2 separate regions of the Homo sapiens genome follow, and region 2 is linked to region 1. The links come from fine-mapping of genetic effects on gene expression. Tissue or cell type: whole blood. Region 1 holds a variant in brackets; the other region holds the start of a gene. All regions are shown on one strand. Distances are between the middles of the regions. Region 1 overlaps DOCK5 (dedicator of cytokinesis 5). Region 2 holds the start of DOCK5 (dedicator of cytokinesis 5).

Region 1 (15,032 bases):
TGTCTTTGTCTTTTTTTTTTTTTTTTTTTTTTTTTTTGAGAAGGAGTCTCGCTCTGTTGCCAGGGTGGAGTACAATGGCGTGATCTCGGCTCATTGCAACCTTCGCCTCCTGGGTTCAAGAGATTCTCCTGCCTCAGCCACCCAAGTAGCTGGGACTACAGGTACATGCAACCATGCCAAGCTAATTTTTTTTTTTTTTTTTTGAGACGGAGTCTCGCTCTGTCACCCAGGCTGGAGTGCTGTGGCGCAATCTCGGCTCACTGCAAGCTCAGCCTCCCTGTTTCACGCCATTCTCCTGCCTCAGCCTCCTGAGCAGCTGGGACTACAGGTGCCCACCACCATGCCCGGCTAATTTTTTGCATTTTTAGTAGAGACGGGGTTTCACTGTGTTAGCCAGGATGGTCTCGATCTCCTGACGTCGTGATCCGCCTGCGTCGGCCTCCCAAAGTGCTGGGATTACAGGCATGAGGCACTGTGCCGGTGTCTTTGTCTTTTAAAACAGCTTGAGGGAAGGAAAACACAGTGGAGACTAATTCCCTCTTGAAAATAACTCTTTGCTGACTCAGCCAAGGTGCATTAGAATGCACCCTCCTGATGGGTTTGTTACCTGTATACCTGCAACAAGTTGCATCGTATTTGATTTGTACTTTCTGTGAGCCTGGAACAATGCGGCTCTCATGACCCAGCCTTCCCTGCCAGAGACCAGTTATAAGACGAAGTGACGACCAGACACGGTGTCTCATACCTGTGATCCCAGCACTGTGGGAAGCTGAGGCGGGTAGATCACCCGAGATCAGGAGTTTCAAGACCAGCCTGGCCAACATGGTGAAACCCCATCTCGACTAAAAATACAAAAATTAGCTGGGCATGGTAGTGTGTGCCTGTAATCCCAGCTATGCAGGAGGCTGAAGCACAAAAATCACTTGAACCCGGGAGGCAGACGTTGCAGTAAGCTGAGATCGTGCCACTGCACTCCAACCTGGGCAACAGAGCGAGACTCCATCTCAAAAAAAAAAAAATACTAAGTCATAAATAAGACTCAGTTGTCAAAATCTAACAGTTTTGCCCTCTTGTATGTAGAATCAGAAGATATTAAGAGCCGGAGTTTGTAAGTATTACCTCTTGGCTAACACCCTCATTTTATCAGAAGAAAAAAAGCCCCAGAGACATCAGATGACTTACCTAAAAGTCACACAGCTAGTAGCAAATTTTTGTTTCAACTTGCTGTCTATCTTTCTCCTTACTTACAACTCTGGAGAGGGGTTTGTTAATCAGATCTCCTTAAGGTTGGAAGAGTAAATTCTCCCCTCTCCATCCAAAGGGGAAGATGCCTGTGTCTCCTGGGTTTTTTCCAGGTGGAGGTTTTGTTATAAGTAAGGTTTGGCTGTTAAATATCTTCCCTTTTTTAAGAGTTCTAGGAAGGAAGTGTGTTTGAGGAGGTTTGAGCCTGCAAAGTGGAAGTGACACTGTGGGTTGCACGGTTTGGCCACTGACTTCTCACGTGGTTTCAGTCCTTAGCACCGTGGTATTGACATGACATCAGTTGCAAAATTAATAAGTAATGTGGCATTGTTACTACATCACAGGCATATTTGAGAATGAACATCACTGTGTTTTGCAAAGTAAACGTTTAAGGGGTGAAGAAAGGGTCATGTATTGCTAATAAAGGATTATGTTAGTAACCTGGATGTGAGAGAACATTTCTACTTTTTCAGACCTGTATTTCAAATAAAATGTGATGTCATCTTCTGAAGACTTAGGAAAAGTTTGAGTGAGTAAGCGCCTTCTCCCTCAGCTTCCATTTCCGCTCTGTTCTTTTTTTTTTTTTTTTTTTGTGAGACGGAGTCTTGCTTTGTTGCCCAGGCTGGAGTGCAGTGGCACCATCTCAGCTCACTGCAACCTCCACCTCCTGTGTTCAAGCAATTCTCCTGCCTCAGCCTCCCTAGTAGCTGGGATTATAAGCATTTGCCACCACACCCGGCTAATTTTTGTATTTTAGTAGAGACGGGGTTTCACCATGTTGGCCAAGCTGGTCTTGAACTCCTGACCTCAGGTGATCCTCCCGCCTTGGCCTCCCAAAGTGTTGGGATTACATGCGTGAGCCACCACGCCCAACCAACTTCTGCTCTATTTTCTTTGCTGGGAGTGGACAGCTTTACTCTGGAGGAGGAGATGCAGCCTCTTCTCATGCAGAGACAATCACTGTCATTCTCCATCGGGAGCAAACTCCTGAAATGGGGCAATATCTACCCACGTGGAACCAGAGGTGCTGGTGCTGGTGCTGGTGCTGAGCTTTGAACTTCCTTCAGAACAAAAGTAAACAGCAAGTTGCCCTTGTTCTTTACCATAAGCAGAGAAGGCCTGTCTATCCAATTGTGACTGCATGATTTGTTTTAGATTTGTTAATTTACATTTTGCAGAATACTGAGGCACATTTTCTGTGAACTTATGTGGTTATATATACTTTCAATCAGTGGATACTGGAAGCATTGTTATACATTTGATGTCTTTTATAAAAGAATCCTAAGGGCCAAAAATGTTGGGAACTTTGGAGTAACTGAAATGGCAATGTGCTGTATCTTATCATAATACTTTGGAGTTCATTGTGACTTGAAAATTCCAATTAAAGTTGGTATAACCTCTATCATGTATTGATTAAAAATGCACATACCCTTTGACTTAGCAACTCCGTTTCTCTGAGTTTATCTTACAAATATACTCCACATGTGGGGAATAATACATGGACAAGGTTATTCATTATAGCATTATTTATACCAAAAACATGGAAACTCTCAAGTGTTGGCTAATTGGGGATGGATTTAGTAATTTATAGCACATGCATACAATGGAAAACTATATAGCCATTAAAAAGATTCTGACGCAGTGATAGATAAAGTGTTGACAAAGGTGAGAGTGGCATGTAGTGGTTGAAGGATGATCTTTTCAAAAAATGATACTGAGTCGTTTGTTTATCTATACTGAACAAAATGTATCAGGACCCCTACCTAATACCACATAAAAAATTGATTCCAGCTGTATGAAAGATAAAACAGTGGAAGCTCTTAGAAGAAAACATAAGAGCACATTTTTGTTACCTTAGAATAGACCATCTGTAATTTAATACATTTTGCTTTCTGCCATTCAGTTAGTTACTTATGACCATCTCTTTGTTAATCAACAAAAACCAAATCCAATATTTTACTTCAATAAAGGGCAAAATAAAACATGCCTGTGCTGGTCTCATCTCTTTATAATCCTACTTTTTAAAACTTGTATAATTACATCTTATTAATTGTAGTGTTAATTTGTTGGTTGTTTAAGGATCTAAATGGCTATTTCTTCTTCTTCTTTTTTTGTTTGAGATGGAGTCTTGCTTTGTCACTTAGGCTGGAGTGCAGTGGTGCAATCTCGGCTCACTGCAACCTCCGCCTCCTGGGTTCAAACAATTCTTCTGCCTCAGCCTCCTGAGTAGCTGGGATTACAGGTGCATGCCACCATGCCCGGCTAATTTTTGAATTTTTAGTAGAGACAGGGTTTCACCATTTTGGTCAGGCTGGTCTCAAACTCCTGACCTCAGGTGATCCGCCCACCTCGGCCTCCCAAAATGCTGGGATTACAGGCGTGAGCCACTGTGGCCGGCCTAAATGGCTATTTCATGGTGAATAAACCATTAGCCTCAGGCTTCGTCTCCTCTCTCTGTTTGAAGACAATAAAGTATGATGTAATTGTATTATTTTGATAAGGTAATATTTAGTCCCATGACATACAAAACACTAGTAGCATTACATAAAACAAAGTATTTCAATAGTGAAAGAGAACATTTATATACAATTATTTCTATAGTCTAACAGTATCACTAACATTACATGCCTTTTAAAAAATATGTTTGAGTTACTGAAGAAGATTGAGATACAGATGTTGACTTGTTTAGGGCAACAGGTTAAGCTAACTTTAGAACGCTGATTACTACCTTTAGTCCTGCAGGCTGTGGAGCCGGGCAGCCAAGCCATGCTTGAAATCAGAATCGTCAAGGTGGATGCAAGAGCCATTGGCTGCAGAGTGAGGTTTTGGAGAGTAGTTGCTTGTGGCTGGGATTTTTGAAGTCCAAGTCTCCTAACTTTTATTACTCTTTACCTTGTGAAGTCATATAAGGCTCTAAGTCAAGTAAGACGGAAGGAATAAGATTAGCACACTTCCTGGTACAGTGGGCAGTACGTGATAGCTATCTGAAAGTTTGCTCAGTCGCAGCCTCCCTGACAGTACCCTAGCCTGGCAATCAGGTGCCTTTGTTTGCAGAGTGGGGCTGATTACCAAGTAGTTAATACTGGTTGGCTCAGAACCTGTCCTCAAAGTTCAGAATAGATTTGAGTATATTTTTGATTTTAGAGCCTTATGGCCAGAAATGGCCTTATCTTGCAAGAATCTTCCTGGGAAAAAAACATATATATATATATTTTTTTCTTCTCTTTGAGACAGAGTCTCGCTCTGTCACCCAGGCTGGAGCGCAGTGGCACAATCGTGGCTCACTGCAATCTCTGCCTCCCGGGTTCACGCGATTCTCCTGCCTCAGCCTCCCCAAGTAGCTGTGACTACAGGCATGCACCACCACCCCCAGCTAATTTTTGTATTTTTAGAAGAGATAGGGTTTTGCCATGTTGGCCAGGCTGGTCTCGAACTCCTGTCCTCAAGCGATCCACCTGCCTCGGCCTCCCAAACTGTTGGCATTACAGGTGTGAGCCACCGCACCCACCCCTGGAAAATATTTGAATTCCCAGGGATCTCTGGGTGATGGGACTGTTACTTTCTTCTGATCCTGTGCTTTTGGGGTGGTACTCACTCACTGGCTTAGAACAGCCTGGAATCCTAAGAGGAATGGATGAATGAATGAATTCACACACAACAAACTAACGGAAATGTTTTGAGTCACGCCACCTTGCGTGTGAATCCCCTTACTGTGGCTAACCCACCTCACTGTTCTGAGGAAGCCCATGTTCACTGAGCACCTTTTATGTTCCAGGGTCTTGCTGGGCTGGATGGTGGTGAGGATCACACAGTAGTCCCGCCTTATCCTCAAGGCATGCTTGAAACCACGGATAGTACCCAAGCTTGTATATACAATGCTGCTTCTATACAAATATATTTATGATAAAGCTGAATTTCTAAATTAGGCACAGTAAGAGGTTATCAACAATAACTAATAATAAAAAAGAACAATCAACACAATATGCCAGTATTACCACTCTTGCACTTTGGGGCCATGATTAAGTAAAATAAGGGTGACTTGAACACCAGCACTGCAATACCCCGGCAGTTTGTTTTTGAATTTTTTTATTTAATATTTTTGGACCTTGAGTACCTGAAGCCACAGAAGGTGACACAGGGGACACTAGGAGACTACTGTGTAAGATAAAGAGTCTATAGAAACACACATAGAAGCAGTAGGCAGGGATTCATAATGGCTGCTTTCCTTTTCTTTAGCTTGATAAGAGTGCTACCAAATACATCTCCAGTGTCATGAATTCATGGATGTGTGACCAGTAGCTCTTGGCCAGCCATTTCTGGTCTTAACACCCAGATCATCATAGAATATGAGGATAGGAATCCACTGATGACAGAATCCTGAATGACTATCTTATGTGCCTGAAAGCCTGCCTCAAAGAAGGCTGATGTCTTCTTGAATTAAAGAGTTGCTTGCATATAGAATATACTGGAGTCATTTTTCAGAAGATCCTTACATGGCTTGGCAGAGGGTGGCATCCAGTTTATCTTTGGCGGAATTAGATTTGCTGCTCAAGATTGTTTTCAAATTGTTTGATAGCTTCAGGGAGGTCCACTGGTAAGCTCACAAATTCAGAAATAGTTTGAGGCTACAGAAGAATTCTTTTCATGTTTGAGCTGTGATCTAAGCCAAGAGCCTTGGAAATTTTGAATCCGTCTTATATTTTCTTTCCTGAATGAGAAATGGGTATACTTGCTCAGTTCCGATTCTGACAACATGACTTATTTCAAAAACAAATAGCTCACTCCGTGAAGCAAACCCTGTATCACTCTCCTCTGGTGACATTTCGATTCTGATACAATGTGGTGGCATGGGGATAGATTTTAGACCAGGAAAAGAGAGAGCCTCTCATTTGTGGCCCAAAAGACTCAATTTTAAAGATCAGATTGGAATCTGTCAGGGAGGACATATGGACATAGTGATTTTTTCTTTTATTTGCCTTTTTTCGCCTCTCTTTACTTTTGGTTTAATGTCTTTTAGGACTTGAGGTACAAAATCCCATGTTGTGGAGGCATTAGCTAACAGTTGTAAAACCTTAGGAAAAGTACAGCATCTCAGTGATCCTGCCTTCCTAAAATTGCTCCTCAACAAATACAGATGGAGGAAATAGAAATATCTAAAATGAAACGTGTTCTTTCGTCTTAGATGTCTTTATCTTCTTGCTTTTATCAGCAGCCTTGAGTGACAGGATTTTATACTTTTGGAAGATTAGAGGGTTTGTTTGTTTTTCTTGCAGAAATAGTTACTTATACCATGTTCATTTATCTGCCTCAGTTCTGAGAATTCTTTGCCAATTTTTTTAATAGCATGTGTTTGGATGAATTATAGACTTCATAGAAGTAACTTCAGGAATTATCGACTTCATAGTCGATACAACATAATGAGACCCTGTCTGTACTTTAACTTTTTAATACAAGAAATTTTTTAAAATTTTAGGGGCATTTAGGTTTTTGGGGGATAGTGCATGGAGTGAAACTAACAGAAGTATTGATCCCAGGATTAGGAAGTTGGGTTTGTATTTCAGTCTCTGTTACAGGAGTGACCAAGTGGCTTGACTCTCTTTAGCTTAGTTTTTCCATCTGCAAAACAGAGATAATATTTTCTATTACCTTCTAGATTCTCAGAGTGTGATGAATTTTCAGTTGTTGAAAATTTCTGCAAATGAATTAAGCGATGCCTGTTAGGCCACATTAATGGACTAAAAACTGCTAGGATCTAAAGTTGACATGCCATTGAACTTTCTGCCTGAAGACTTACTGAGGAAACTTTGTCTACAAAGGTTTGGTGCAAAGAACCCCATTACTTTATGGCCAAATTTTCTTCACATGCCGATGGTAATCCAGTAGTCTTTCTTCTAACTTCTTGGCGGCTTTCATATACTCTTCAGACTGGCTAAGTCATACGTTAATAGGAAGAACTAATTTTCTCTCCCTGAGGCTGAACTTGTGATCTTTTTCATCTGGTTTCCACTTCTCAGATTTCCCCAAATCTCTCAGTCGTCTTTCCCAAAGTATTTAAAGGAAGATTGATTTTAACAGAGTGCTATGGACTGAATTATGTCCCTCACAAATTCCTATGTTGAAGCCTCAGCCCCTAGTGTGATGGTATTTGGAGATGGGTCCTGGGAGATAATTAGGTTTAGATGAGTTCATGGTGGGGCCCTCATGAGGGGATTAGTGCTTTTTTTAAAAAAAATTATTTTTAAAAATGTCTTTTATTAAAAAGTTAATTAAAGTACAGACAGGGTCTCATTATGTTGGCCAGGTTGGTCTTGAACTCCTGGCCTCAAGCAATCCTCCCACCTCAGCCTCCCAAAATGCTTGGATTACAGGTGTCAGCCCCTGTGCCTGGTCTCTTCTTTTATGTGGAGAGCGCTCTCCCTCTCTCTCGCTCTTGCTGTCTCTCACTCTCTCTCCCTCTGTCTCTCTCTTTCTGTCTTTCTCTTTCTCTCTCTATGCTATGTGAGGATACAATGAGAGGGTGGCCACCTATAAGCCGGGAAGAGAGCCCTCACCGGAAACTGACCATGATGGTAACTTGATCTTGGACTTCCAGCCCCCAGAGCTGTTAGAAAACACATTTCTGTTATTTAAGCCACATGGTGTGTGGTATTTTGTTATGGCAGCCTAAGCTGACTGAGACACAGGGAGTTGCGTGTTATTTGAAATACGAGTCCACTGTTGCCAGATCAAAGTTCAATCTCTGTAGTTTAATCCTAGATTTTTCCCTCCTCTTTTACAGGGATTTGAATCTAGTGAAAGTAATTCACATGCACATCAGATACATGCCTTTAGCAGCCTTCTGGCCTTGAAAATCCTGCTGTTGCTGATTCAGTTGTCAGGGCCCAAATCAGCTGGTGAACTCATGAGTTTGCAGGTCTAGAATTGTAGGTGTGGGAAGGGGAGAGAGACATGGGTTACTGAAGACTTGTGCAAATAAATGCTGTGTTCATCTTCACCGATTCACCAGGTATCTGAGTAGGAGGTATGCACTTAGCACTTGGAATACTCAGAGATAATGCCATTGCACACTTAATTGATACTTCTCCTAACACTTAAGAGAAGTGGACATAGATTCTGTTTGTGGGAAGTTTATAATGAATTAAAAGACCCCAAGTATAAAGCCATAAATAACTCCAGGGAAAGGAAGGCTGAACATGAAAAAAGTTGCAAAAAAAGTCCAGTTGGGGTTATTGGAGTTTAGAGAAGCAGAGATTATTCTAATTGAGGGAGTTGAGGAAGCTTCAGGGAAGTAGTTGAACTTTATAGAGATGGACATCAGGTTTGGGAAGGCTGGGGACCTGGCACAGCGTGAGCCCTGGCCCTAACGCAGTTATTTGTGGCAAGTGGATAATGAGGAAGTTGTCCATTCTTGCTGAAGCAAAGGGTGGGTAAAGTGGAAAAGAGGGAAATGATATAGATTTTGTCAGATTATGGGGAGACTTGTTTACCTTGATTTTTTTTCTTCCTCTTTAACCAT[T/C]CATGCTGCAATAGTGTGCTGGTAAACTAGCTCTGTAGAGTGGGAGGAAAAAACTTGAGTTTGTAGCATTCACCAATATCTGTGGTGTAAATACTCCCACAGTGGCCAATTTCAGACCAGCAGTGGATTAAGAGATAGCTCACAGAATTCCTGAAAATTCCTGAAAATGTAACAGTTGGCCCTTCCAAACTAGTACAAGTTTGCTCCAGTATTCTGTGAAAAACCTGGGCTAGTTCCTACATGACAAATAGTTACAGTACCTGCCTGCCCACAGCCTGGATAGAAGACCCAGGGAAGGCCTAGGTAGCCTCGTTTTACACCATCTAAGATTCCTGTGGCCATCACTGATTGTCCCTGGATGGACACACTACCTAGAGGCCATTCCGTAGCCTGGACAATGACATATGGTTTGACGCAAAGAAGTAAGTACTCAATCAGGTTCCTTCTCTTGGGAATTTGAATGAGGAAATACCAATATGTTTTGCCACAGGGGCAAAAGCTAAAAGGATGTCGTTTGGGAGTTGAGTTGGTGGCAACCTGAAGCCATGTGGAAGCCAATGTTGTGAATGGAAACCACAAGGAAACTGAAAAAGCTGATTGATAGAGAGAGGGGAGCAGATGTGGAGAGACCCTACAGCCCTAGAGTGGCCCCTGTTCTTAGCAGCTTTCCAAGTCCAGGTCTAAAACATCCCTTTTCTGAGGCAATTTGAGTGAGTCTCTGTTCCTTGCAATACCGTGGCATCACTGAAGAAGTTTATGTGGCAACTCAGGGTACTTTGCAGAGCTTTCTATGAATGCAGACATACCTCCTTCTATATAGCACATCACTTTATTGATCGACCATAAGATTCATGGTCGATCAATAAAGCAATGGTTCATGAAGTTTGATGAAAGAAGTTTAATAAAAGAAGCCATTGCCATAGCATAGAAGTGCAAGGTGAGGCAGCAAGTGCTGATATAGAAGCTGTGGCAAGTTATCCAGAAGATCTAGTGAAGATATTGATGAAAGTGGCTACACTAACAACATATTTTAAGTGTAGATGAAATAGCCTTCTATTGTAAGAAGATGCTGTCTAGTACTTTCATAGCTAGAGAGGAGAAGTCAGTGACGGGCATCAAAGGATAGGCTGACCCTCTTGTTAGGGGCTAATGCAGCTGGTGACTTTAAATTGAAACCAGTGCTCTTTCACCATTCTGAAAAATCTGAGGGCCCTTAACAATTATGCTAAATCTACTCTGCCTGTGCTCTATAAATGGAACAGCAAAGTCTGGATGACAGTACATCTGTTGACAGCATGGTTTACTGACTATTTTAAGCCTACTGTTGAGACCTACAGCTGAGAAAAAGAAGATTCCTTGATTCAAAATATTACTGCCCATTGACAATGCACCAGGTCACCCAAGAGCTTAGATGGAGATGGACAAGGAGATTAATGTTTTCATGCCTGCTGACACAACATGAATACTGCAGCCCATGGATCAAGGGATAATTTTGACTTTCAAGTCTGATTATTTAAAAGAATACATTTCATGAAATGGTGGCTGCCATAAATAGTGATTACGCTGATGGTTCTAGGTGTAGTACATTAAAAACCTTCTGGAAAGGATTCCCCATTCTAAATGCCACTAAGAATATTGATGTTTCATGGGAGGAGGTCAAAATATCAATATTAGTAGGAGTGTGGAAGAAATTGATTCCAATTCTCATGGATGACTTTGAGGGGTTCAAAACTTCAGTGAAGGATGTCCCTGCAGATGTTGTGGAAATAGCAAGAGCACTAGAATTAGAAGTGGAGCCTGAAGATGTGAGAATTGCTGCAATCTCTTGATAAAACTTGAGCAGAGAAGAGTTACTTTTTATGAATGAGCAAAGAAAGTGGTTTCTTGAGATGGACTCTATCTTGGTGAAGATGCTGTGAACATTGTTGACAACCAAGGATTTAGAATAATCCATAAACTTGTTGACAAAGCAGTGGAAAGGTTTGAGAGGATTGACTCCAAATTTGAAAGAAGTTATACTGTGGGTGAAATACTATGAAATGCTATCAAATAGCATCACATGCTATAGAGAAATATTTCATGAAAGGAAGTATCAATTGATCTGGCAAACTTAATTGCTGTCTTATTTTAAGAAATTGCCACAGCTGCCCCAGTCTTCAGCAACTGCCACCCTGATCCATGAGCTGCTATCAATATCAAAGCAAGACCCTTCACCAGCCAAAAAATTAAGAGTCCTTGAAGGCTCAGATGATCATATGCATTTTTTTAGCAATAAAATATTTTCAAATTAAGGTCTGTACATTTTTTAGACATAATGCTATTACACACTTAATTGACTGTAGTGTAAACATAACTTTTATAGGCACAGGGGAACCGAAAAATTTGTGTGATTGGCTTTACTGCAATATTTGCTTTATTGCACAGTCTGGAACCAAATCCACAGTATCTCCTAGGTATGCCTATATAGCAAATTTCTTAAGAATAGAGGACAAATCACTTGCTTCTGATTGAGGTTAAAATATGCCCATGACCTTCATTTCTTTGCCTTCCCTCCCTCCCTGCACTCCTCCCAAATGACTTGTGAATATTATTTTTTCATTCTTTTTCATTCCAGCAGAGCTGGTTTGGAATTCATGATGTTGAAAGAATAGCCAGTAGGAACATGTGGTGGGGTGATGTTTTGTTGGCATTTACCATTACAGAAAATCACAAGAAAATTGGAGCCATTAGCAGCAGGGAAAGGAAAATGAGTTCTTTATCTGCTGAGGGCATCTGGTGAGGGAGGGTCTGTGAAGATGCCGCGGGTGCACTGCTCTAGTATGAAATGCCATTTGAAGGAGGCTCAGAGCACATTAGCGCCGTCATCCCTGTCTGATGTTCTCACCACACGCAAGTTCGTGAATAATTAAATTGTTAGGAAGGGGAAAGTCATGCATGGCGGGTCTTGCCCGAGGCTCAGGCAGACACACAATGAGGTCGCTACTCTGGGAGCCCAGTGGTCCAGGATGCCAGTCTGGCAGTGCCAGGGAAGGATGCTTCCTTTCAATAAGCGAACATTGTGAGGGAGCGGGGTGGAGGCAAGAGACCGCTTAGAAATCAGCACATGTGAATTCTGCTTCAAACTCTGCCACTAACCAGCTATTTGACCTTCCAGAAGTTGCTTCTTCATCTATAATGAAGGATGATGCCAAGAGGATTTTAACTTTTTGAGAAATAAAGCTCCTTTGAGACTGTAATGAAAGCTGTGGATTCTTTCCACAGAAAATGGTGCATATGTCTGTCGATGACATTTCACATACAACTTTAGGAAGTTTAGAAATCTTTGGGGACTCAAGGATCCCAGCTTAAGAAGAAGTCTTGCATGAGATGATGTCTGAACTTTTTTTGTATCTCTACAATTGCATTTTTCTGAGACTTTGGATCTTGGAAGGAACCTAGAATGTCAGCTGGGCTCTCACTTCTACTCTCAACAAGAGGCAAGCCTGCCCTGCCAGCATTTCGTGCAGAAGGCGCAAGCAACATGGGAGCCTCCTGTGTTTTCCTCAAAAGACACCATACTTCTTTTTCATTAGAGACAGGGTCTCAGCCTCGCTCTGTTGCCTAGAGTGCAGTGGCGCCATGATCCTCCCCCCTCAGTCTCTTGAGCTGCTGGGACTACAGGCACATGCCACCATCCCCGGCTAATTATATATATATATATATATATATATAAATGTGTGTGTGTGTGTGTGTGTGTGTGTGTGTGTATCTGTCTATTTATCTATCTATCTATCTATCTATCTATCTATCTATCTATCTATCTATCTATCTATCGAGTAGAGATGGGGCCTTGCTATTTTGTCCAGGCTAGTCTTGAACTCTTGGCCTCAAGCGATCCTCCTGCCTTGGGCTCCCAAAGTGCTGAGATTACAGGCATGAGACACTGCATCTGGCCCTCTATAACCTCTTGATGTGTGCATTCTAAGCGGGAAGAAACAGACAGCAAATGCACAGTATGTATAGCATGATGTCAGTGATCAGGGCTTTGAAAATATTGATGAAGCACAGTGATGCCATAGACAGTGATGGGGTGAGGTGCTGTTGTCGAGTTGGGATGGTCAGATAACGGCTCTGTGGAGGGGATATGTGGGAAAAGATGTGAATAAAAGAGGGATTGGGACCGGGCGCTGTGGCTCACACCTGTCATCCCAGCATTTTGGGAGGCCAAGGTGGATGGATCAGTTGAGGCCAAGAGTTCAAGACAAGCCTGCCCAACATGGAGAAACCCCATCTCTACTGAAAAATACAAAAATTAGCCAAGTGTGGTGACACATGCCTGTAATCCCAGCTACTTGGGAGGCTGAGGCATGAGAATTGCTTGAGCCTGGGAGGCAGAGGTTGCAGTGAGCTGAGGTGGCACCACTGCACTCCAGCCTAGGCGACAGATCAAGACTGTCTCCAAAACAAAAAAGAGGGACTGAGCCATGCAAATCTAAAGTAAGAACATTCTAGGCAGAAGATGTGGCACAGTTAAGGAGCAGTGGAAAGTGCCAATGTTCCTGGAGCTGAATGAGGGGAGGGGGAAGGGAGGAGGGAGAGGTGGGAGACAGGTTGAGAGACTGGCAGAGCTGAGGTTGGGGTAGTTCTTTGTCTACTGGAAACACAATTATCTGTACTCAAATGACATCTAATAATAATGGTTATTGATAAGCCACCCATTCATTTCATAGGCTTGGTTCATTACCAGCAATGGGCTGCTTTAATAAGACAGTGGTCCTCAAACCTCCTTCTGTCAACAGCACCTGGATAGCCTGCTTTGCAGAGTACCATTGGAATCAGATATCCCTGTCTTTAAGGAACTTACAGTACAGCAGAGGGGACAGGATGGTGTCTCCATTATTTTGTGCACATGGGAGAATTGCTGTGTCTCATAAGAGAAGCACAGAAAGTGCCAAATAGAGTTTCAGGAGAGGAAGTGAGTACTATCTATTGGAGAGGTCAGGAAGGCCCCAGGGAACAACTACGCCAGTTTTATCACCCATGCACTGGGGATGGTATTAGAACCTCCCACAGCATTGTATAGATAAACTGTTTGAGTGCCTAGAAAGCTTTCCACACAGGGCCTGGCACACACCTAGTAAGTGCTCAATAAAATATGGGCAAGCATTTGACTTGCGTCTTAAAGAAGGTTTACGATTTCTGAAATATAAAATGCTGTCTGTGGCCAGGCACAGTGGCTCATGCTTGTAATCCCAACACTTTGGGAGGCTGAGGCGGAAGGATCACTTGAGCCCAGGAGTTTGAGAGCAGCCTAGGCAACATAGAGAGACCACATCTCTGCAAAAACATTAAAAAATTAGTCTGGTGCAGTGGTGCATACCTGTAGTCCCAGCTACTCTGGAGGCTGAGGCGGGAGGATCGCTTGAGCCCAGGAGGTCAAGGCTACAGTGAGCTACTATCATGCTGCTGCACTCCAGCCTAGGCAACAGAGCAAGAGCCTATCTCTAAATAAATTAATTAATTAATAAATGCTATCTACGTAGTTTATCATGCAGATTTTTTAGAAATACAGCTTCCGCCGGGCACGGTGGCTCATGCCTGTAATCCCAGCACTTTGGGAGGCCGAGATGGGCAGATCACAAGGTCAGGAGATCGACACCATATTGGCTAACACGGTGAATCCCTGTCTATACTGAAAATACAAAAAAATTAGCCAGGCATGGTGGCGGGCACCTGTAGTTCCAGCTACTCTGGAGGCTGAGGCAGGAGAATGACGTGAACCTGGGAGGCAGAGTTTGCAGTGAGCCGAGATTATGCCACTGTTTTCCAGCCTGGGTGACAGAGCGAGACTCCGTCTCAAAAAAAAAAAAAAAAGACAGCTTCCATGTAAAGAACTATTCAGGTCAAAATAGCTAGCTATTTTTTTTTAAATCTGGTTGTTTGCTTTATGAGTAGTCTTAATTAACAAGAGGATCAAGATTTTTCCAAATCTAAATCCATCTGTATAGCCTTGTTCAGGAAACATTTTGTTCTTGACTTTGGCTTGTGTTTGATACACTTGAACTGTCTGTGTTATTTATTGCTTCTTTAATTAGAGCAGCTTTTAAGGACCAACTGTGGGCCAACAGTGTGCTAAGGGCCACGGGCAAGTTTCATGTGGGGTCTTGAAAGAGCTTACATTCTAGTCGGGGAAATAAGAAGTATACACAAAAGTCAAATTATGTTGAGTCTTCATTATGTGGGTACCACCTAGGAAGGGGACTGGATGTACCTCTGCTCAAAACATCTGGATCCC
Region 2 (15,032 bases), 22 kb before region 1:
CTTTAAGTCACTTTTATTGGTGCTATAACAATTCTACACTAAATGTAGTTTCTCCCAAGAGGGTAAAGACTGACATTCAAAAACATGAATTCTGAGGACAAGGACCAATTAGAGACAACAAATAGCTGTCCCAATCTCAGTGAGATAATGAACACGAAAGTGTTTAGGAACATTATCCATCTGGAGCTGGTTCTACGATTTCATCACCCCCACCTCCTTTTCAAGCCTCCTTCAGGTATTTCTGGAAGATCTCAGGGTGTATATCTGAGTACTCACAAATCAGTTGGGCTATTTTGTTTTTTTCTGCTCTGACCTTCACCAGGTGGTATCACCAATATCTACTCGGCCTTGCAAATATTTTAATAGATGTTGTCATACCTCCTTCTAGCACCCTTATCTCAGGCAGGCCCCATGTCTTTTCCATTGGGATACCCATGAGAATGCCACACTCCCCTCTGTAGAAGCCTGCTTGTTCAGTGGGTACCAAAGCATTGTTTGTGTGTTGCTATCTTACCAGGGCTTAGTCAAAATTTTTTTTTGAGACACTCTTACTCTGTCGCCCAGGCTGGAGTGCAGCGGTACAGTCTCCGCTCACTGCAACCTCCACCTCCCATGTTCAAGCGATTCTCCTGCCTCAGCCTCCCAAGTAGCTGGAACTACAGGCGTGTGCCACCATGCTCTGCTAATTCTTGTCTTTTTAGTAGAGACGAGGTTTCACCATGTTGGCCAGGCTGGTCTCGAACTCCTGACCTCTGGTAATCTTCCCGCCTCAGTCTCCCAAAGTGCTGGGATTACAGGCATGAGCCATTGTGACCAGCCAAGTTTTATATTTATAGTTCTTATCACTGGGAATAGAGTTCAAAGGGCTAGGCCAGTAGACAATTCCCCAACACACGATATTCACTGCTCTCAGAAGTGCCCCCATCCTCTGATTTCTATGGCAACTTTTACTATTGGAGTCCTCCTCTTCCCATGACTTTTTTTCCAAGGGCTTCTCACAAATCCTTATGCAAACAGACTTCCAGTGGGAAAGCACCACACATGCTTCCTTAGTTATGCTGCTCCTTCTGGAGGCCCCCAGCCTTCCCACCCACCTAAAGGGGTGACAGTCATAGTGTAGAGCAGGGATTGGCAAACTAAGGCCCAAGAGCCAACTCTGCCTCACCACCTGCTCCTGCGCAGCCTGCAAGATAAAGATAAGATAAAGATAAGAATTTTTTTTTTTTTTTTTGAGACAGTCTCGCTCTGTCACCAGGCTGGAGTGCAGTGGTGTGACCTCTGCTCACGGCAACCTCTGCCTCCCAGATTCAAGCCATTCTCCTGCCTCAGCCTCCTGAGTAGCTGGGACCACAGGCACATGCCATTACACACAGCTAATTTTTGTATTTTTAGTAGAGACGGGGTTTCACCATATTAGCCAGAATGGTCTCGATCTTCTGACCTCGTGATCCGCCCGCCTCAGCCTCCCAAAGTGCTGGCATTACAGGGGTGAGCCACCACGCCTGGCCAAGATAAGAATGTTTTTTACATTTTTAAATGATAAAGAAAAACATCAAAAGAAGGATAAACAATAATATTTCTTTTCTTTCCTTTCCTTTTCTTTTCTTTCCTTTCCTTTTTTTAAGATAAGGTATCACTCTTATCGCCCAGGCTAGAGTGCAGTGGCACAACAATCGCAGCTCACTACAAGGTCAACCTCCCCAGGCTCAAGTGATCCTTTCACCTCAGCCTCTTGAGTAGCTGGAACAACATGTGTGTGCCAACACACATCTAATTTTTGTGTTTTTTGTAGTGACAGGATTTCTTCATGTTGCCCAGGCTGGTCTTGAACTCCTGGACTTTAGCAATCTGCCCACTTCGGCCATTCAAACTGCTGGGATTACAGGGGTGAGCCACTGCACCTGGCCAGAATAATATTTCATATGCATAAAAATACATGAAATTCAAATTTCAAATCTACTGTTAAAAGAAAGACCATAGCCAAATTAAATTTAACATACTTTAATTGAGCAAAGAACGACTTGAGAATCAGGCAGCCTCCTGAGCCGGGGTAGGCTCAGCAACTCCAGTGCAGCCACGTGGTGGAAGACGATTTATAACAGAAGAAGGAAAGTGATGTACAGAAAACAGAAATGAGGTACAGAAAACGGAAATGGGGTACAGAAACAGGCGGATTGGTTACAGCTCAGCAGCTGGGCGTTTACCTTATTTGAAGACAGTTTTAACAGTTTGCCTCCTCTGATTGGCCAAAACTCAGTGATTGGCACAAGAATAGGTTTTGGTCTGTTTACACTTCCATTGAGATTATAGTTCGCTATGTACAGAGAAACCTTTAGGCTGAACTTAAAATATGTAAGGAGGCAGGTTTAGTCTAAACTTGATCTAACACAACTAATGAAGTTTTACTGGGACACAACCACACTCAATTCATTGTATGTATTGCTCATAGAGGCTTCCCTGCTACAACTGCAGAGTTGAGTGGTTGCAACAAGGCCATATGGCCTGCAAAGCCTGGGAACTATCCATAGTGGGGCCTTTATAGCAAAAGCTTGCAGACCTCTGCTTTAGAGCATGGACCCTGGAGTCAGGCTGTCTGGGTCTGGATTTTATTTTGCCACTAATTAATTATGTAGGTAATTTCTGGACACCTCCTAAGCCACATTTGTGAGGTGGGAATGACCGGAGAGTTATATTTACCTCATTAGGTTGTATGGGGATTAAACAAGGTGATTTGGAGCCAGTACTCATTACTTCATACGCAGTTATTATTGTTACTTTACAGTTGGTGGCTGTGAAAAAATAAAATCGTTCTGGTATTAAATACAAGTTCTGGATTAAATGCTTGTTTTCTTAACTGACCACAAACAGGAAGAAAAATCTGCTGAATATGACAGTCGTCTAAACAAGATAGTCATAGTGTCCGTGTGCCCAAGGAACTGAAGAGTGAAACTTCACTCTTGTCACAAAAAATGATCAGATTTAGGCAAATAACTTCCTACTCTTGCTACATAGCCCAGAGACTTCAGCAATCAAGTATTTTTCTTTATTTTGTTTTGAAGAAGGTTGAATAAAATTTGTCATTTATTCATGTTCTTCTATGGTCATTTTCCCTGTAAATCTATGACTTTCTATAGCTACAATCATTTTGCGGCATAGACAATCTAATTATTTTCATTTATGCCTACATTATACATTTTCCACATTTCTTCTAAGTTTTCATCATCTCTCTTTTTGTTCTTTTTTTTTTTTTTTTTTTTTTTTGGCAGGGGGAACAGGGTCCCCCTGTCACCTAGGCTGGAATGCAATGGTGCCACATCAGCTCACTGTAACCTCCACCTCCTGGGCTCAAGGAATCCTCCTACCTCAGCTTCCTGAGTAGCTGATACTACAGACACACACCACCACACCCTGGTAATTTTTGCATTTTTTGTAGAAACAGGGTTTTGCCGTGTTGCCCAGCCTGGTCTCGAACTCCTGGGCCCAAGTGATCTGCCCGCCTTGGCCTCCCAAAGTGCTGAGATTACAGGCATGAGCCACTGCGTCCAGCCCATCATCTCTTATTTTAAACAGTTTTATGAATATAATTTTTCAATGTATATAGGAATCAAGACATACGGTAAATAAACATAGTTTGTTTTTTTTAAAATCAGGTAGTTTGATTTCATCTCACCTAAATATGGATCTAGTTTTCAAGAAACTAATGCCTTCTTACTGCTCACATCATCCACCTCTCCCAACAGTGGAATCAGCTCATTTAGACACAGCAAAGAACATTCCAGAAACAACACTAGAAAAAAGAATTTTCCCATGTTCATGAAAAGGGTAAATCATAAGTATAAATCTCCTTGTGACAGAGATGAGGAGATAATAGCATTGGAGCCCCGAGCATTATCTTCCCATCCATCAGAGAAGCCGGACCCCCACAGCCACATGGCAGAGCCTGTGCAGACTCAGAGATGCTCACGACCTAAGTCACTTGCAGAGTGGAGAGTGAATAATGATGTTGGAATCCCTGGGGCCTATGAAAAGGTACTTCTGGGACTAGGGTGATTCATGGTTTCCTTTGTCCTGCTAAGCTCATGGGTCCCAGAATTACAATGTATCACCTACTCCTGGCTTACTTAGAACCATCCTTAGGAGCCTGCAAAGCACTGCTTAGAACCAATTACATTATTTGCATTGTTATCATTTTTTTGGTAGTTCCATTAGCCACTGACTCGTATAGGATCACAGAATAATCTTCTTTTATCTAGAGAGAGAGAGAAAAAAGACACTTTAAACGACTCCACAGCATCTCATAGAGAAGCCATCAGACCAGCCTGATTTGGCAAAAACAAGCCTGGTAATCAACAGGGAGGTGAGGCTCTTGCCAGTTCTCTTCACATCCTGTCCATTTATTCTCTAAGGCATTGTAAGGGTTAGTCACAATACTCATGTCAAACTAACCCTCAAAGCCACTTACCCTCATTTCTTTCTCCATGGCTCCTTCAAGCAGAGCCTGTGAGTGTCTGTGCGTGCTTAAGTGTGTTTGTATTTGTGTGGGTTTTGGAGTCTGAAGATCTCTGTGGAATATGCTTAATGTTTCTTCTGAAAAGATATCAGAGGAAAAAAAAAGGGTATTTCTGGGCATCACGCTGTCATTCCAACTGCCTGTCTGGTTAACTGTCTAATTTTAAGCCTCATTCTAATAAAAGACTTTGAAAAGCTCTGCTTTTATGATTTAAAAGGACATTCACACTAGGATTTAGCCATCTGATATAGCAAAGTGAGTGGATTTCAGTTTTCAAAAGGAAATGATAAACATACTGAAAGCTGTAATTAAAATTTTCCATTTTCCTCCAACTCTCTTAAAGCCATTGTCAAATTTGAAATCTCTGGCACCCAAATTCAAACCTCTAGTTTTGGAAGAAGAAGACTTCAATGCAAAAGTGGGATGAGGCAGTTGAAATCGCTTTGGTAGAAACCCAGTTCCACTGGATAAGAGCATTAACATTCTGATGTATGGTACATTTGAAATATACCTTTGGTCAGAGAACAGAGGTCATCCAATTTCCCTAAGCACGGAGAATTCATGTAACTTTGAGAAGCCCTGAGTCCACAACAGGCAAGTCATATAATCCAGTGCAGAGCGCTTTAGCTCCTAAGGGGCCACATGGAGAAGTTGCTGAGGAAGGCGTGAAGAAGTGGGTCCTAAAGAAATATTGAAAGGAAAACTTTGATACAGAGCAACTGGGACAGGAAAGGGTGAAGACAAGATAGATATAAATGGTGACCAAGACAATGGCAACTCTACTCCCTTGCTATTCAAGCCCCAAACCTTAGAGTCACTCTTTTTGTTTTGAATTAATATTTGTTTAGAGACAGGGTCTTGCTATGTTGTCCAAGCTGAAATGCAGTGCCAATTCACAGGTGCCATCCCATTATTGATCAGAAGGGGAGCTCAAGAGAGGGTGCCACCTGGAGCCTGAGGCAGTTCAAATGTGAAGTCCCGGCTACGGGATCTTTGTCAATAATGCAGTCAGTGACAGAGAAAAGACAAGGATGCATCCAGTTGCTTTCTACACAGGGATGCTCTCTGGGCTGCTGGCTGGTTGGAAAAGGGAGGTCTTGGGGTAGATTTCCCCCTGGATATGTGGGCCTGAATTTCTTCAGCTAAGGAGGAGTACCGAAGTTTTGGGATATAGGACTTCCAAATTAGGGCTTTCCAAATAATTGACCCGCTCCATTTCTGACCTGGACCAGTTCACCCCTCCTTAGGCAACCTGGTGGTCGCCTGCTCCCAGGATGTCACTATATTGATGCGGAACTTAGTGCAGACACCTGATCAGCATAGCTCACTGCAGCCTGGAACTCCTGGGCTCAAGCAATCCTCTTGCCTCAGCCTCCCTAGCAGCTGGGACTACAGGCATGTGCGACCTAGCTGGCTTTAGAGTCATTCTTGACCCAGCTTGTATCTCACATGCAGGGACAAGAACCAAGGTGTGTGGGGCCTGAAGGGTGTACGATACGGGTAGGGCTCTTTAAAAAAAAAAAGAAAAATACAAGCATATCTCTTTCTGGGGGAAAACTTTCCAAAAAAGATTGAAGCCTCACAGTAGTAGATCCCCCTGCCGTTCATGTGGCCCTCCTCTTGGTTCTTTTTCATGCTGTGATGCAATCATAGCTCACTGCTAGCCTCGACCTCCTGGGCTCAAGCAATCCTCCCACCTCAGTCTCCTGAGTAGATAGGGCCACAGGCACAGCCACCATGCCCAGGATATATATATAGTAGAGGAGGGTCTCACTATGTTGTCCAGGCTGATTTTGAACTCCTGACCTTAAGCAATCCTCCCACCTCAGCCTCCCAAAATGCTGGGATTACAGGTGTGAGCCACCACATCTGGCCAGGCTCTATTTTCACGTATGTCAAGAACCCAACATCTTTTTCACCTCCATCCTTATCCTCCTGGACCCAACTACCTTCATGTCTTGCCTGAATGACTGAAATAGCCCCCAACATCCATCCATGTGGGCCTCCCTTGCCCCTTTACAATGGATTCATACCACAGCAGGCAAGTTCAATATGTTCCAGGTTGGCTCAAAGCCCTCCAAACCTCGCTTGTAGTAGTAATATATAAAGTCCATATGCCTGCCAGGGTTCTGCTCTATCTGGCATTCCTCTGCCTCTTAGACCAAGTTTCCTCTCACCTGTTACTCAGCTCTCATTACCTAGGATCTCTGGGTGACCTGGGAACCTGCCAAACACGCTTGGTGTCCTTTGCCTTTGCTGTTCCTCTTTTCCAGAATACTTTCTCCCGGAATCTTCACTTCCTTCAGGTCTACACCTCAACCTCAGCTTAGCAGAGCTGCATTCCCAGACCACTCCATAAAAACAGCAGCACCCTACACGCCCTATCCTCCCTGCTTTGGATTTTTCTCTAATGTTTACTCTCGTTTGGTGTACATTTCTTTACTGTCTTACTCTCCCCGTCTAGACTAGAAGCTCTGTGAAGGGACACATTCTACTGTATTCACCGCTGCACCCTCATTCTTAGAGTGATGCCTGGCACTTAACGTGTAGGCATTTAATATGTGTGTGAAGAAGGAAGAAGAAATTACCTAACCTGGGAAATTAGAATCATGATATACTAATGGAGGAAGATAAATTATTTTAGGGAAGATGGTGGAATTCTTTCTGGATGTCAAGTCTAAAGTGACAGAGGAATTTCTTAAATTATTGTTAAACATTGTGAATAAATACCTATTGGTTGATGGAGAAAAAAAAAGCCAGCTCTAGTAGTTACCCACCGTGAATAGGACTTAAAAAAAATTTCAGACCTCGTTTGGTAAAAAACCACCAAAGTTAAAATGCACTAATTCTCCAATGAAACTTTACTATCTTGTTACCTTGTTTGCCTATCTATCTTTACTGTCTTTTTTTTTTTTTTTTTTTTTTAGACGGAGTTTTGCCCTGTTGCCCAGGCTGGAGTGCAGTGGCGCGATCTCGGCTCACTTATAGCCTCTGCCTCCCGGGTTCCAGCGATTCTCCTGCCTCAGCCTCCTGGGTAGCTGGGATTACATGAGCACACCAGCACGTCTGGCTAACTTTTGTATTTTAGTAGAGAAGGGGTTTCACCATGTTGGCCAGGCTGGTCTGGAACTCGTGACCTCAGGTGATCCACCCGCCTCGGCCTCCCAAAGTGCTGAGATTACAGGCATGAGCCACCACGCCTGGCCAACTACCTGTCTTTACTATCTTTACTACATGTTTGTCTTCCTTTCTTTTATATTCCTAAAACGCATGAAAACCTTCACAGGCTGCAAGGAGGATATAATTTCTCTCTAGAGGAATCTTCTTCGAAGGTGAACGTAATTAAGCTGGTCATTTACTCTACTTGCAATGTTACTTCTCGGTACAAGGTAGGGAGAAACCCCTGGATCTTCATTCTCCAAGTCTCTCCAGGAAGAAATGAATTCCAAGAGGGGAGCTCCAGAGAGGGCGCCACCTGGAGCCCAAGGCGGTTCAAATGCGCAGCCCCTTTGGGATCTTCGTCAAGAAAAGGCAGTCGTTGACGGAGAAAAGACGGGGATGCGCCTTGGCCCTTTCTCCACGGGAATGCTCTCTGGGCTGCTGGCTGGTTGGGAAAGGGAGGTCTGGGCATGAGGGTCTAAGTTTCTTCAGCTTAAGGTTGGGGGGTCCCCGGAGTTTGGGGATACAGGACTTCCAAATTAGGGCTTTCTAAACAATTTCCCTGCAGAGGATCCCCTAGCAAACGGTCTGATACTTCTGAGGAGCCCACCTCCCTTGCACCAGCTCTCCGGTGATAAAAGTTCTGCTTTCCAGGCTCTAAGCGGTGGCCCCGGGAGATTCAGTCTGCCCTGAGTCCGGCTTCTCCCGCTCGCGGCGCGGGTTCAAGCTCCAGGGGGTGAAGGCAGAAGTCAACTGCTCATTCATTCAACAAATATTTATTGCGCGCCCGCTTAGTGCCAGGCACCGGAGGTGCCCCGAGCAAGAAGCCGCTCTCGCTGATCCGTTTCCGCTCCCCAAGTGTCCGGCGCGCGCCGTGGGAGCGCAGCCCGCATCCCTCGCCCACCGGCCGCCCGGCCTGGGCGTGCCCGGCTCCTCCAGCGCAGCCCTCTGTCGGGAGCCGGACCCCCGGGACCCAGCCTCCGGGGTATCAGCCGGGTGGGGAGGGCGGGAGAAAGGCAAAGTGCCGCCAGCGTCAAAGTCCCGCCGGCCCAGGAAGCCGCTCCAGGGAAGCGCGCGAGGCGGAGCCGCAGTCGGCCCCCGCCCGGCAGAGCGCAGAGAGCGGCGCGGGCGGGAGAGGCCGGGCGCCCGCGGCTCGGAGGCGGCCCCGGCGGGCGGAGGGTGCGGCCGGCGGGAGGGACTGGGGCGGCGCCAGGAGGGGCGCGCACTGCTGCGCTGCAGCCCGGCCCAGCAGGTGACCGCGGGCGGCGCGGGCACGGGCACGGGCGCGGGCGGCGCGGCGAGGAGGCGGCCCGCGGAGTCCAGCGAAGTTTGGCGGAACATGGCGGAAGCGTCTGGGGCACGCAGGAGCGCGGGGCGGCGGCGGCCGGAGCCCGAGGAGCTGTAGCAGCCTTAGTCGCCGCCGCCGCGGGGCGAGGTCGCCGCCATGGCCCGCTGGATCCCGACCAAGAGGCAGAAGTACGGGGTTGGTGAGTGCGCGCCCCACCTTGTCCCGGCCCGACCCACGCGGCCAAGTTCGCGGACAGCGGCCCTGCCAGGTTTGCGCAGAGCCCGGCGGAGGACCCTGGCCGGGGGCTCGGCCCGGCTGCGCAGCTCTGGGAGCCGGGGACGGTAGGAGTCCTCTCCAGGGAGCGCCGATGGGGAAGTCGCCCAGGGTTTGGGGACTCCGAGTGCTTCCAAGTGCAGCTGAGCTTCGGGACCGTAATCCCGCTCTTGCATCCCAATCTCCGGCACTTCACACCAGGGAAATGTCAACGCGAGGGGGGCGCGCCTGCTGCTCTTTTGGGGCCGCAGCTCTGTGGCTCGCCCCGGTGCGCCCAGCGTGGGTTTCACCTGGGAGTAGGTGACCAGCCCGGGTCGGCACATGGACTGGTGCTCATTGTCCCAGTGCTTTCTGCCCCCCGCTTTCGTAGGTTCTTCTCAGACGCCCCTTAAGTGAGGAGTTGAGGGTGGAAAGCCGCCCTGCCCCCTTTCCTCCAGAGACTGGGATCTTGATGACAGTTGTGAGCTGGATGGAAACTAGAGTCGTGGCGTGGAAGTGATGGAAGGGACAGGAAGTTGTGGCACGGGAAGGGGGTGGCTGGCCCCTGGGGCTGTTTGTGCGCACTCATCCCCTAACGGAGCCTGTCTGGAGAGGGTGTAAGGCTGCCTTCCGGATCCTGAGTTTCATCCTGGAGACGAGAAGAGGACATTTTATTAAGGAAACTGTGCCAGACCCCGTGCTGGGCACTTGGCATTCAGAACAGCGGTGCTGGAGAGCCCCGGGTTGTGCGCAGGGGTTGCTGGTGGTGGTGCTTTGGCTCCGAAACAATAGATGTGCGGGGATTTTGACCCAGGTGGAAAGTCAGGCTCCTTTGGCTTTTTATCAAGGATTGAAGTTATTGAGGGCCTGTGGGAAGACTTCTGCCCTGAACGGGGTGATTACAATGGCAGTTAGACCTGGGGTGATTCCCTACAATAAACACGGCTGAGTGTGTTGCGAATTTTATCACTTCCTCTCAGATCCATTCATTTGGCCTGTTTGTAATTTAGTCTTTGACTTTACTCCCTTACTGAGGTCCTGTTTTTCCTCACCTCACTGGTTAATGAAGTGCAGTCTCAATTAAGAGCTACTCAACGTGTCTAGGGGCTTTTCAACTCTGTAGCCAGGAGTCAGGGTTTTTTGTTGTTGTTTGTTTTGTTTTTTAACAGTCTCATATTTACTATATTATTCTTAGGTTGTGATCCTTTATATATTTATTATTTTTTGTTTTCCCTCAATTCAAAAGACATTTTCTTTTTTGCTCTTAAGTTGCTTTTAGAATCTTAGTCTCTCCCTTAGCTGCATCTCAGAAATGGGTAGAGATGTTGCTTCTGCCTCAGGGCTCTTTTTTTTTTTTTTTTTGGTTTGTTTGTTTTTGAGACGGACTGACGAGGGAGTCTCACTCTGTCGCCCAGGCCGGAGTGCAGTGGCGCAATCTCGGCTCACTGCAAGCTCCACCTCTAGGTTCCAGCAATTCTCCTGTCTCAGCCCCCCTCCCCGAGTAGCTGGGATTACGGGCTTGCATCACTACACCTGACTAATTTTTGTATTTTTAGTAGAAACCAGGTTTCGCCATCTGGGCCAGGCTGGTCTCAAACTCCTGACCTCAGGTGATCCGCCTGCCTCGGCCTCCCAAAGTGTTGGGATTACAGTCATGAGCCACCTCACCTGGCCCCTAGATGAAAGCATATTTACAATGCCCAATCACTACAGAAATGTTATCAACTCTAATTTTATCAGGATTAAAAGCTCTTTTCAAAACTATTCAGTTGAGGGTAATTAATGCAAACATGTTTCAAAAATGTGGTTTTTATTGCCATAGTCCTAGGAGCAAGTATAATTGTTTTTAATATTTTGTTTTTATGTTCTGGAGTCAGTTTACTGTGTCACTTATCAGTCAAGAAAAATATTTGGGCCAGGTGCGATGGCTCACGTCTGTAATCCCAACAATTTGGGTGGCAGAGGCAGGAGGATTGCTTGAGCCCAGGAGTTCAAAACTAGCATAGCAACATGGCAAACGGGTCTTTACAATAAATACGAAAAAAATTTAGCCGGGCATGGTCGCCTGTGCCTGTGGTTCTAGCTACTGAGGAGGCTGAGGTGGGAGGATAGCTTGAGCCTGGGAGGTTGAGGGTGCACCGAGCCCCCATCACGACACTGCACTCCAGCCTGGGTGATACTGTGAGACCCGATCTCAAAAAAAAAACTATATATACATATATATACGTATATATATATATACACACACACACACACGTATACACACACATATATGTATATATGTATATACATATATATGTATATATGCGTATATGTGTGTGTGTGTATATATATATGTATATGGAAATATGGGTGGAAATTGTGTGTGTGTGTGTGTGTGTGTGTGTGTGTGTAAAATATTTGGATTGCATTTCCAGGGCCTAGGTGTTAGGGAAACTGCTCCAGGATATAATTCTGAACACTTATTTCACCAGACATAGATTCTGGTTTGTCTGGGTTTGACAAAAGGACCCACAGTTGGGATAAATTAACTGAAGAGAGAAATCTCCATTGCTTATTGCTAAAACTCATTGTTTTTGTCACCTCCTTGCTTATGTTTATGTCACCTCCCTGCTTGGAAGTCTCTCGTGGTCAACAGGATAAAGTCTGAGCCTCCGTTCCAAGGTTCCTATAATCTGGTTCAGCCTATCTTCAGCATTATCTCTCGAGGCTTCTTTCACTAGCTCTCCAATGCAGACCAACTGCCCTTCCCACTGTTGTGCAACATACCCTGCAGAGTCCCTCCTTTGGGACTTTGCTCCCATTGTGCCTGTCCCTGCCAGGAGTGCCCTCCCAACTCTGCCTCAGACAGCTCACCTTTCCTTGAGGGCTCAAATCCATTCCTACTCCCTTCTTCAAATTTGCTATTTGTCAGACTGTCCCAAACCTCCTTGCTTCTTCCTCGCAGTTCCTGGACTGTGCCATCCTTGGGTTCAGTGAATCAGACCATTGTGGTTTTGTATTCCTAGCACTCAACAGGTGTACCAGGTATTAGTGCATTCAGTTTGCTTGTCCTTGATGTTGGGGTGCCGTTCTAAAGTACACTAACCTAGCTTGTCTGGTAATTGAATGCAGTTTTTTCCTCTTCTTTTTCTTCCCATTAGGCATAACATCTCATTCACCCCAATATGAGTTGAATTTTGTTTGGTTAGATGGAGGAAGGGAGAGCCTCCACTCTGTCTTTATCTCTGCAAGTAAGAGAATGAGATATTCTGCTGAGAAAACAAGGAAGCATGGAGCAGACAGACTTTCTTAAATATAGTTGGGAAAATTGGCTTTCTGGACTTCTCTAAGTGTGTACTGGTCAGATTTGGTTTCTGGATGAAGGAACCGTAGGATAGTCATGTTGAAGCATTTGGATGACTCAGAGCTAGCTATGACTTTGCCTGTTGTGCTCTAAGAGGAGTGTGCCTCTGCAGAGCTAGTCTGTGTGAGGATAGAGCTTTGGACTCAGTATGAATTGTGCCTGCTGAAGCTGGCAGTCGCTACTGTCATATTTTATCTTGGTGCCACTCTTGGCTGTTCCTGACATATCCTAGATGTTTCTACAGGGACTGAAATGCAGCCTGTCTGGGCTTTCTTAGTTCTTAAACAGCAGTGTTGGCTCAGGCTCTAGCATTAAGTGGATCTCAATGGTTTCTGTGTGTTATCAAGTGAAGTGACTGATCTATTTGATTCTTTAAACTTATGGTGCTCTAGTACCCCAGTGTTAAGTGCTCAGTGGCTAAGTGTTCTTCCCTGGAGACGTGGAAAATGTGCTTTTTTCTCATCTTTTTTCTTTCTTTGTTTCTCTTTTCTCTCTCTTTTTTCTGTTTGAGCATATGAAGATATAAAACACTTTTAAGCAAACATTAGTGATAAATATCCAGAATAGTCTGATTATAAAAACATTTATTTTTAAGTTTGCTTCCACACAAGCCATTATGTAAAGAATAGCCCCAGATTAGGTTGACTATGGATTCTTTGCAAAGCTTTTTTTTCTTTTCTTTTCTTTCTTTCTTTCTTTTTTTTTTTTTTTTTTTTGAGACAGGGCCTCACTCCACAGCCCAGACTAGAGTACAGTATGATCATAGCTCACTGCAACCTGCCATCTCAGCCTTCCAAGTTGCTGGAACTGCAGGTGTGCACCACCATGCCTGGCTTAAGTTTTTTGATTTTTTAAGTTTTAAAATATTAAACTTTTAAAATAATCATTTTAAAGATGGAGTCTTTCTATATTGTCCAGGCTGATCTGGAACTCTTGGCCTCGTGTGCTCCTTCAGCCTTAAGCCTCCCATGTTGCTAGGATTACAGGGGTGAGCCATGAGCCTGGCTGATTTTTTTTTCTTTTCTTCTGAGACAGGGTCTCGTTCTGTAACCCAGGATAGAGTGCAGTGGCAAAATCATGGCTCACTGCTGCCTCAACTTCCTGGGCTCAAGTGACCCTCCAGCCTCAGCCCGCTGAGAGCTGAGAGCTACAGGTGCGTGCCACCACAACCAGTTGATTTTTGTATTTTTTGTAGGGATGGAGTTTCACCATGTTGCCCAGGCTGGTCTGGAACTCCTAGGCTCAAGCAGTCCTTCTGCCTCAGCCTCCCAAAGTGCTGGGATTACAGGCATGAGCCACCACACCCAGCCTTATTCTTTGAAAAGTAGCTCATTGTTGCATGTTGGGATTTGTGATCACATATATTTTTATGATGTAACAAAAGGCAGTTTTGGGAAATATTACTAGTTAGCTCTTCAGGTGTTTACTTGTTTAAAGCTCTTTAGTTGTTTAGAAGCATCTGACTTAACGGAGTAGAGCTTTGAATGCTGATTTAAGACTGACTTCAGACTTGGGCTTTTGTTGTGTTTTTGTTTGCTTATTTGTTTGTATTTTGAGATGGAGTCTTGCTCTGTCGCCCAGGCTGGAGTGCAGTGGTGCAATCTTGGCTCACTGCAACCTCTGCCTCCTGGGTTCAAGCGATTCTCCTGCCTCAGCCTCCTGAGTAGCTGAGATTACAGGCGCACGCCACCACGCCCGGCCAGTTTTTGTATTTTTAGTAGAGACGGGGTTTCACCATGTTGGTCAGGCTGGTCTGGAACTCCTGACTTCATGTGATGTGCCCGCCTTGGCCTCCCAAAGTGCTGGGATTACAGGCGTGAGCCACCGCTCCTGGCCCAGAATGTTTTTAAATGCATAAAGTACGATACAAAGTTCCAAGTCACTGTAGAAATAAAAATTAAGTAAATTACAAAGGATAGAAAATGAAAACAGCCGTATTGAAATAGGCCGTGAAGGTGTTTTTCAAAGTTCGTGATACTGCAGTATATGTACTTCTTTATTAATGCATAAAGTACCAAGATCTAGTGACAGGTCTAATAACTAGCATAATTTTGAATTAGTCACGAGCATATATGATTTTTCAAGATATCTGCAGTAACCATACTATGATATAAAAATCCCTGTTTTATTGGTGACAGTATCACAGGCGCTAGTAGTGCAATTGCGGTTTATTGGCTACAGTCGTAATTAAAGTGAGTGCTGAATGTCAGAAAATAGAGATGTAACTTTTTTCTTGTTCAAGTTCGTGGATCCTCTGGATTTAACAGATTAAGTATCCTTGGCTGAGGATCACATAGCTAATTAGTTACAGTGCCATCTGAGCAAGACAGTGATACTTGTTGACCACCTCTTTGCACATAACACTGTACCGGATATTATATAATTATAATGACCCGAAGAAGGCCTGGCCTTAACTTGGTCATGGGTTTTTTTTTTTTTTTTTTTTTTTTTGAGACGGAGTCTTGCTCTGTCGCCCA

What was found.
Region 2: DOCK5 starts here. The variant in region 1 is fine-mapped to the expression of DOCK5 in whole blood (TOPMed, PIP above 0.99).

The regions. Positions count from the first base shown.
Region 1 is chr8:25,197,566-25,212,597 of GRCh38, forward strand. The region is part of intron 1 of DOCK5 (dedicator of cytokinesis 5); the gene reads left to right. Among named protein-coding and RNA genes, the nearest start is that of DOCK5, 20 kb to the left of the region's middle. RefSeq lists enhancers at 1-377, 378-1,316 and a silencer at 1,469-1,558. The variant T/C (reference allele first, on the strand shown) is at 8,759.
Region 2 is chr8:25,175,796-25,190,827 of GRCh38, forward strand. It overlaps DOCK5 (dedicator of cytokinesis 5), which reads left to right and starts at 8,894. Exons shown (of 52, transcript NM_024940.8): 1 at 8,894-9,156. The coding sequence starts at 9,114. LOC124901912 (a long non-coding RNA gene) reads right to left here and starts at 8,582. Exons shown (of 2, transcript XR_007060861.1): 1 at 5,022-8,582; 2 at 1,986-4,249. RefSeq lists silencers at 8,712-8,791, 8,802-8,971, 9,142-9,191.